2 separate regions of the Homo sapiens genome follow, and region 2 is linked to region 1. Evidence: fine-mapped expression QTL. A gene starts in region 1. The other region holds a variant in brackets. All regions are shown on one strand. Distances are between the middles of the regions. Region 1 holds the start of LINC02878 (long intergenic non-protein coding RNA 2878). Region 2 overlaps IQANK1 (IQ motif and ankyrin repeat containing 1).

Region 1 (4,518 bases):
GTGCGCGACCCCGGAGCCACGTGCCAGGCCGGGCTCAGAGGCGGAGAAGCCTGCCTGGTGCCCACAGCCGTCTGGCTCAGGGACTCCACCCTGGCCCCGAGTCGCCGTCTGCTGGGCCTTTCCTTCCTGGCTCTGCACCCCATGCTGGCTGCCCGGTCTGGCTTCCCTTCTTGTCTCTGTCTTGGGCGAGGCAGCTGTGAGCATTGCACAGAGGCAAAGACCCTCCTGCAGCCTCTGCGCTGGGCCGTAGAAACAAGAGCCTTTGTAATACTGAACCTCATTCAAGGATTAGGAGTGGTGGTTAGGTCAGGGCCACCCCCAGTGCTGCAGGAACGGCCTCCACCCAGCTCTGTTGGTCAGAGCCTGGGTCATGCACCTGGAGTTGGGAGATCAAGTTGGGTCTCAGGGCAGTGAGGTGGCCATATCCACCACATCGCATTTCGTGGGGGAAGAGGTGACCTCTTTGTTTTAAACTTAAGGTGTCTGCTTATCCAGCCAGAAATAAAAATCTGCCAGTGGTGTTCCCAAGGGAAGACCCCCGTGGGAATGGGTCGGGACACTGCCGTGTTTCAGGTTAGCCAATTATTTTTGCTTTTGCCTGTTTTTCTTTAAGAATTGCAGCCAGGCCAGGCGTGGTGGCTCACGCCTGAAATCCCAGCTACTCGGGAGGCTGAGGCAGGAGAATCGTTTGAATCCGGGAGGTGGAGGTTGTGGTGAGCCAAGGTTGCGCCATTGCACTCCAGCCTGGGCAGTAAGAGTGAAACTCCGTCTCAAAAAAAAAATTCCAGCCAACAGATGCATATGTAATGTTGGAATCAGAAACGAGTTTACAAGAAATAGGGGGATGAGGAGAAGGTTGAACACACCGAGAGGAAGCCCTGAGCCAGATCCGGCTGGAGATGCCACCAGACGGCGACGTTTCTGTGGGAAGACGGGCACGCAGAAAGGCCGAGGGGGCTGTGTGTGACCCTGGTAGGAGCAAACCGAGTGCGAAGTCACTTTTGAGACAATCATGGAAATGTGGGCACGGGCCGTGAGTCGGGTGGGTAGGCCGTGAGTCGGGTGGATGGACTGAGTCGGGTGGGTGGGCCGTGAGTCGGGTGGATGGACTGAGTCGGGTGGGTGGGCCGTGAGTCGGGTGGATGGACTGAGTCGGGTGGGTGGGCCGTGAGTCGGGTGGATGGACTGAGTCGGGTGGGTGGGCCGTGAGTCGGGTGGATGGACTGAGTCGGGTGGGTGGGCCGTGAGTCGGGTGGATGGACTGAGTCGGGTGGGTGGGCCGTGAGTCGGGTGGATGGACTGAGTCGGGTGGGTGGGCCGTGAGTCGGGTGGATGGACTGAGTCGTGTGGGTGGCCGTGAGTCGGGTGGGTGGGCTGTGAGTCGGGTGGGTGGCCGTGAGTTGCGTGGTGGGCCGTGAGTTGCGTGGGTGGGCCGTGAGTCGGGTGGGTGGGCCGTGAGTCGGGTGGGGGTGCGGAATTGGCTGCTAGCGGTGATGGTGACACAGGGTTACGGAGGAATCCTCACTCAGATGCATTTGGACGTCTTTGTGGGGAAATGACGTGGCGCCTGGGATGTACTTTACGATTCTAATAAAGAGGAGAAAGACACAACAGTATTGGCTGAATGTTGACAGCTGTTGAAGCCGGGAGGTTGGTGTGCTTAAAAGTTCCCCAAATCTTTTATTTGCAGCATGAGTATGAGTTTCTTCGTGCTCACGGAAGATTGTAGAGAGCAGCTGTCGGTCATGGAGTCACAGGGCTGCCTTACCAGGACACCACCGGCAGCCCCACAGACAACACAGGTTTATTCTCTCCAGCTCTGCAGGCTGGAAGTCCGAGGTAGAGGTGCCAACAGGGTCCGTTTCCGGCGAGCGCCTCCTGGTTCAGAGGCATCCTCATGTCAGGAGGGGCTTTGGTGTCACCTTTTCCTTGTGAGGGCCCGGATCCCATGACCCCTATCACCCCATCGAAGCCAAATCACCTCCCAGAGACCTCCTCATACCATCACGTCGGGCCTAGGGCTTCCACATGGGAATTTCAGAGTGACCATTCAGCCCGTAGCAGAAGCTCCTCTGGGTCTGTCCTGGCCCACAGACCCTGTGTAGGAAAAGCACTTGCCCCTGCGGGGCAGGCCCTGGCAGAGCCCGGTGAGGCAGTGAGGGCCCTGCAGGATAAGTGGAAATCTCCCCAGGGGGGATATGGGGGTGCCTTTCTCTTACAGAGTCCAGGCTGGTAAAAGCGCATGTGTGTTTCGTGTCTGGTTTGTCCCCTGCCCAGCGGGCGCCGTTGGAAGGGCCTTCAGGTGCTTGAGCACAGGTGGGGACGGAGCAGCTGGTGTCTCGGCAGTAGATGCGGCGGATCATAAGGACTTGGGTTTTGAGCGCCCTGCAGGAAGCCACTGGCCGCGTCCAGGGTCACCTGTGCCTGGTCGTTAGTCCCTCACAATGCTGTCACTTTGTGACGCTCTTGTGCAGGATTAAATGTGAACAGCAGAGACGTGGGTGATGCGCTGCCTCGTCAGATGATGGTCAGTTGTCCAAGCGGGCTGCCTTGCTCTTGGTGGCCTCATCATCCAGGGCTCACACACTGGATGGTTGGGCCACAGTCGCGGTACCCCCCGGGCTGCAGGCTTTCCACCCTGCTTAGCAGGGCTCCAGGGCTCCGGGTAGAGCAGGGGGTCCCTCCCTTGGCACTTCCCCAGGGAGGAGCACGACCGTGCTCAGCTGCGGTCAGGCTGCTGCTCTTAGTTGTCTTTCCTTCTAACACTCAGGCTTCCCTTCCTGCCTCCTGGGTCGCTGAAGAAGGTCAGGTCCACAGAAAAGGCCTGGGGAGAGAATGGTGGTGAGGAGCCCATGGGGGTGTGAGGGGCCGGGAGGCTCTGCATCTTGCCCTGTTGGCCTCCTCACCACCCAGGCGGGGGTGGGGTGACAGAAGGGGCTCACAGCAGGTGTCCCGTAAGGAGCATCTTCCTTCCTGGGGCCAGCAGCCGTCACTCCCTGTGAGCCTGTAGAGCCGAGTTTTCTCTGCATTTATCTTGGGCAGAGAATGCATGAAGCTACTTCGCGGCCAGAATGGGTGCACAGCAGGGTCCGTTGACAGCCATGCCTGTGACCTAGCCTTCCACCCCTCTGTCTCCAGGGGACACTTGCCTGGCCTTTGTGTTAGCGCTCAGCACACATGTGTCCAGTGTAAAGTCCACCAAGATTAGCAGGGCATGGTAGCTGCCGCCTGTAATCCCAGCTTCTCAGGAGTCTGAGGCAGGAGAATTGCTTGAACCTGGGAGGCGGAGGTTGTAGTGAGCCAAGATCGTGCCACTGCACTCCAGCCTGGGCGACAGAGTGAGACTCCATCTCAAAAAAAAAAAAGTCCGTCGAGAGAGCAGGTGGCGGATGCAGCTGAGAGCTCCAGGAATGGGAGGGCCACGTGGTAGCCACTGGCAGCCTTGACTGAAAGATGAAGGAGTCCATGGTGCTAGGAGGAGGAGTTGCATCCCAGCAGGCTCAGCTCCTGGAGCTGCCTCTCTGCACTCTGAAGGGAGGCCCAGTGGCTGCAATATTCTTCTTTGGGAAGTACAATGCCAAGTAAATAAAGATATTTGGGGTCATTCTAGTTACAACGTATCATAAACTCTACTCACTGTTGTTCTGGGTGTTCATGGGGTCCGCCGTGCGTACCAGTCTTACAGGTCCTCAAACCCATTGGGACCCTTCAAACGAAGAGTGTGCGTGTGGAGTTGGCAGAACCTGACCCGGGCCAGGGTGGAGGGACAGCTGCGTCACTGAGTGCATGTCCAGCCCTAATAGCTCGCTTCGTTGTGTTTGTATCTGTGACCTCTTGGGAGCTAAATCACAGGCCCACCAAACGAAACGTTTTGGGGAATGTGAAATGGGTGGGTTTTGAGCTGGTCCCCAGTGTGAGCTTAATGTTGGAGCCATATTGGATTTTAAAACTTCAGAGGCTCCTTTTCCCGGGGCCAACCATCCTATGTAAAATTCGAGGGCCGATGGTGGAAGCCTGGAGTCCGGTTACAGTGGTAACTCCATGAGGGGAGACCAGCTGTCATGCACCTGAGCACCCAGAATCACTCACACTCCCCACTCCTCCCCTCCCCACACGTGCACACTTAGGAAGTGTGGCAGCCTGACTGCAGGAGAGCCATGATACCACACACAATCCAAACAAAGGCAGAGCAGCCCCGCCTTAGGACAGGTGAGCCTGTGGCCTGCACACCCATTGCCACAGCTGGAGGGCTGTGTCCTTTCCACAGAGGGGTCGGCCAGCCTCGTCTTCTGATCACACTACTTCAAAGGTGCTCAGTCCACTCACCCCACCTCCAGCTGCAGTGTCTCCACCGGGGACCACGACCACCATGTCCATGTTCAAGCAATTCTCTGCCTCAGCCTCCCAAGTAGCTGGGATTACAGGCACCCGCCACCACGCCCAGCTGATTTTTGTGTTTTCAGTAGAGACGGGGTTTCACCATCTTGGCCAGGCTGGTCTTGAACTCCTGACCTCGTG
Region 2 (4,221 bases), 47 kb after region 1:
TCCAGACAGAGCACGCCTTCCCCAGCCTCCTCTTATTGGCCTGCAGCCCTGCTCTCCCCACGTCTGGTGATCTGTAAAGAGGGCTTGTTCTGCGTGGGTGGGACCTGCTCTAGATCCATCTTGGAAAATGAGCTCATGCCGTTGGTGTAACCACCATTCCTGCCCCCATGCCACTCTGCCCCGGGGCCTGCTGGCTGACGTCCATGGTGCAGTCGTGATGTCCACGAGCCTGTCTGTGCCCTCGCTGCGGCCGACTCTCTCTAGGAGCGTCCCCACAGGATGCAGAACCTCCCTTTGAGCTCGGTGTTCCCTGCTCCTCACAGAGCCACCCCCAAGCCTTTCCCAGCTGTCCGCATCACCACTGTCCCGGGCTCGTTCACTTCAGGCCCTGGAGAGCCAGCCCAGCCCTCACTGGTGTCCGGAGTCAGTGATACACAGCGCTCAAGTGACTCTTCCCACCCACAGGAAGTGGGTGATGAGGTGCCCCCCGGGGGCTTCCCTTGCTGCTGCCCGCCAGGATCTCCCTGCTTGGGACTACAGCATGCGGGGGAGGTCAGGCTGGAGTTGGTGTGGGAGCCTTTCCCAGCCTTTCCTCTGCATTGGTGCCCTCCCCAGGAGGCATCTGAGCTGCAAAAGGGGCGAATGCGATGTAGACACTTGGGCCCCGGGACTCGCCTGTGTCATCTGGGCTGGGCCCCACAAACACCACAAACACCTTTTCCACCACGCAATAGATGGCTGCTGGGCTGCCCAGGGGTGTGATGTGGAGCTGGGAAACCCAGCCTGGGAAGGCAGCATTCCAGGAGCTGCTTTCCAAAAGAAGAATAGCCTCCACCAGGAAGGTGTGGCTGAGCCCCAGAGCCCCAGAAACCTGCGGGAAGCTCCAAAGGGGGGCCTGCCAGAGGATACACAACCACCCTACCTCCTGCACACGGGATCCTCCAACCAGACAGTGTGGCCCAAGCAGCCTGGCTACTTTCACCTTAGCCAGCAGCCCTGGGCCACACTGGGGATGGTCCCAAACATGGCCTGTGCTGCTGTCACGGTGCTAAGGGGCCTGGCAAGCACGGGGTCTTTCTTGCTGGACGGAGGCACAGGTGCCAGAATCTATCTTTTGCCCTACAGTGTCCCGGCACAGCCTAGATCTATGGACCCCTTCACCGGGTGCTTTATCCCCCACCCCCCAGAACTCCTGGGACCATTGAGATGCCCAGGAGATGGGGGGGCCCTGTGCCTGTGTCCCGTTGCTGCTATAGCAGCCACCACATCTACCAGCTCTGCAGGGTAGCCACCGGGCACGGCCTTGCCAGGCTGACGTCGAGGAAAGCCAGCCGTGCTGTGGGTTTCCTTCCCTCTGGCTCTCCACTTCTGCCTCCCTCTTCCACTGTTTTTGGTTTGGGTTTTTGTTTTGTTCCGTTTTGTTTTTTTTTGAGACAGGGTCAGCTGTCTTGCCCAGGCTGGAGTTCAGGGGCTATTCCCAGGTGTAACCCTAGCTCACTGCAACCTCCAACTGCTGGGCTTAAGTGATCCTCCTGCCTCAGCCTGAGTAGCTGGGACTACAGGTGTGTGCTCCCACGTCTGGCAAGCCTCTTTCAGTATAACTGTATGGGTTTTTCTCCATCTTTTTTTCGTCTTTACAATTTTTGTTCTCAAGGACTTGGGCTGTTTGACTTGAGTCTTCCAGTCTGGATTTTGCTGATAAGATGGAACACCTCGAGAGTGCATCTTTGTTAACATTTAGACATGCGTCCCCTCCTCGCTTGCTCAGTGGAATTACGATTGCACTTGGAAATGT[A/G]TCGTGTTGGGTGTGTTCCTTAAGCTGAACTTCCGTAGATCTGGCAGGACATTTAACACCAGAACACGAAGCCTGCTTCAGAAGTGACTGAAACGGCATCTGCCTCACAGTGCATATTTAAAAAATGATTTTGTTGTGTGAATAATTATGCTGCCATCTACAGATAAGTGAGATCAGAAACATTAGTTTCATATATTGTAGTTTTTAGTTTCTGAATACTTATTGGATTCTTTTTCTTTTTTTTTTGAGATGGAGTTTCGCTCTGTTGCCAGGCTGGAGTGCACTGGGGCTTGGCTCACTGCTACCTCCGCCTCCCAGGTTCAGGCAATTCTCCTGCCTCAGCCTCCTGAGTAGCTGGGACTACAGGCACCCACCACCACACCCAGCTAGTTTTTGTGTTTTTAGTAGAGACAGGGTTTCACCATGTTGGCCAGGATGGTCTCGATCTCTTGACCTTGTGATCCGCCCGTCTCAGCCTCCCAAAGTGCTGGGATTACAGGCGTGAGCCACCAGGCCTGGCTCCTTTTCCACTTTCATGGACCCTCGTGATTGCATTGGATCTCCCCGGGTAATCTGGGATGTTCTTCCTGGCCTAAGGTCAGCTGATTAGCAACCTTAGTTCATCTGCAGTCTCCATTCTCTTTTTGCTGAATCACGTCAAGTATTCACAAGTTCCAGGGGGCAGGAGGTGGACATCTTTGGGGGACATTATTCCGCCCACCAGAAAACCCAGGAGCAGCCACAGCCCCAAGACGAGGCAGGGAAGGAGTGCTGCTGTCTGCCGGTGAAGATGAACTGCTTCTGACCCTCCCGAGCGAGGATATTGAGAAGAAAGAATTTGCCAAGATGCTAGTCACACACCAAGTACAGAGGCTATGTTGGTCGGCTGCAGCAAAAAGACCACTCGCGGCGTGGCAGCTCTCACTGGCCCTGCTGCCTCTTCAAGTTGACTGCAGTCCATCACCCACGGTCATTATTAATTTGTTTTTGCAAAGGCCAGGCAGGTGAATCTAATGGAGATGGAAACCACCACACCTGCTTCCCTGGTCTCTGATGTTGGTGTTAACCTCTGCAATTCCTCAAGCAAAGCACTCCTTCTATCAGGCTCACTGTCTTGCTGGAGGGAGGAAGTTCCACAGGCTCTCACTTGGTTCTTTCTGCCGTAACAACCCTTACTCCTCCGGCCAAGGAGCCAATGTGAGCATTCAGCTGGCAGCTAAGAATGTGTATCCCAATAAACAGGGCAGACCTACAGACCCACTGGACCCACTAGAGATGGACTTGGGCCACAGTGCCTTCCATGACTTCAGTAAACAGAGGGGTGTGGTGATCTTGTCAAAGTCCTGGCGTCAATGTCAGTGTCCGGCTACACACCATGTTCCCGTCCTCGAAAAGCCTCTCTGTACCCCTCTATGTTGGTGACACAACCCTGGCAAATGGCCACAGACTCCTTTGGGGACAGAGTAGGAGCGTAACTGGTGGGAGTGGTTGGCATGCTTTGTATTGGGAGAGCCGCACGCCCTAGGGCTTCCAGCCTCCTCTTCAGTTTGGCAGCTGTGAGTCTGAATTTCACTCAAATCTGGAAACTGGGTGAGAGACTGTGGCAGCTGCTGTCCGGCTGGCAGAGCCTGACGTGTCTCTGATCATACTCACTGGGTCAGCAACACCCTACTGACCTTGTCCAGAATCCCACATCCCAGTTGATATCAGGGCAATCAGTTTCCTGGCTGTTTTCCCCAATATCAACCCGGGCTTACAGAAGACAGTCACCACAGAGCTCCTGCCAGGAGTTCACTCATTCGTGCATTTCTTCCTTTTTTTTTTCTTTTTGAGATGGAGTCTCGCTCTGTCGCCCAGGCTGGAGTGCAGTGGAGCGATCTCGGCTCATTGCAACCTCCGCCTCCTGGGTTCAAGCGATTCTCTTGCCTCAGCCTCCCAGGTAGCTGGGATAGCAGGTGTGTGCCACCATGCCCAGCTAATTTTTGTATTTTTAGTAGAGATGGGGTTTCATCATGTTGCCCAGGCTGGTCTCAAATTCCTGACCTCAGGTGATCTGCCCTCAGCCTCCCAAAGTGCTGGGATTACAGGCTTCAGCCACCACACCCAGCCTCATTCATACATTTCTTATTGTTGTTGTTTGAGACAGGGTCTTTCTCTGTCACCCAGGATGGAGTGCAGTGTTGTGATCATGCCTCAGTGCAGCGATCATGGCTCAGTGCAGCCTCAAACTCTTGGGCTCAAGCAGTGCTCCAACCTCAGCCTCCTGAGTAGCTAGGACTATAGGCACACAGCACCATGCCCCGGCTATTTTTTTATTTTGTAGAGATGGGGTCTCACTATGTTGCCCAGGCTAGTATTGAACTCCTGGCCTCAAGCAATCCTCCCACCTCGGCCTCCCAAAGTGCTGGGATTAAAGGCGTGAGCCA

What was found. PIP is the estimated chance that this variant, and not a neighbour inherited with it, causes the effect.
Region 2: its variant is the best candidate, but not a certain one, in a credible set for the expression of LINC02878 in whole blood (TOPMed, PIP 0.57).

The regions. Positions count from the first base shown.
Region 1 is chr8:143,694,801-143,699,318 of GRCh38, forward strand. It overlaps LINC02878 (long intergenic non-protein coding RNA 2878), which reads left to right and starts at 2,315. Exons shown (of 2, transcript NR_015445.1): 1 at 2,315-2,841; 2 at 3,139-3,613. ZNF707 (zinc finger protein 707) reads left to right here. Exons shown (of 6, transcript NM_001100598.2): 6 at 1-585.
Region 2 is chr8:143,741,816-143,746,036 of GRCh38, forward strand. All of the region lies in intron 3 of IQANK1 (IQ motif and ankyrin repeat containing 1), which reads left to right. Among named protein-coding and RNA genes, the nearest start is that of IQANK1, 9.8 kb to the left of the region's middle. The variant A/G (reference allele first, on the strand shown) is at 1,796.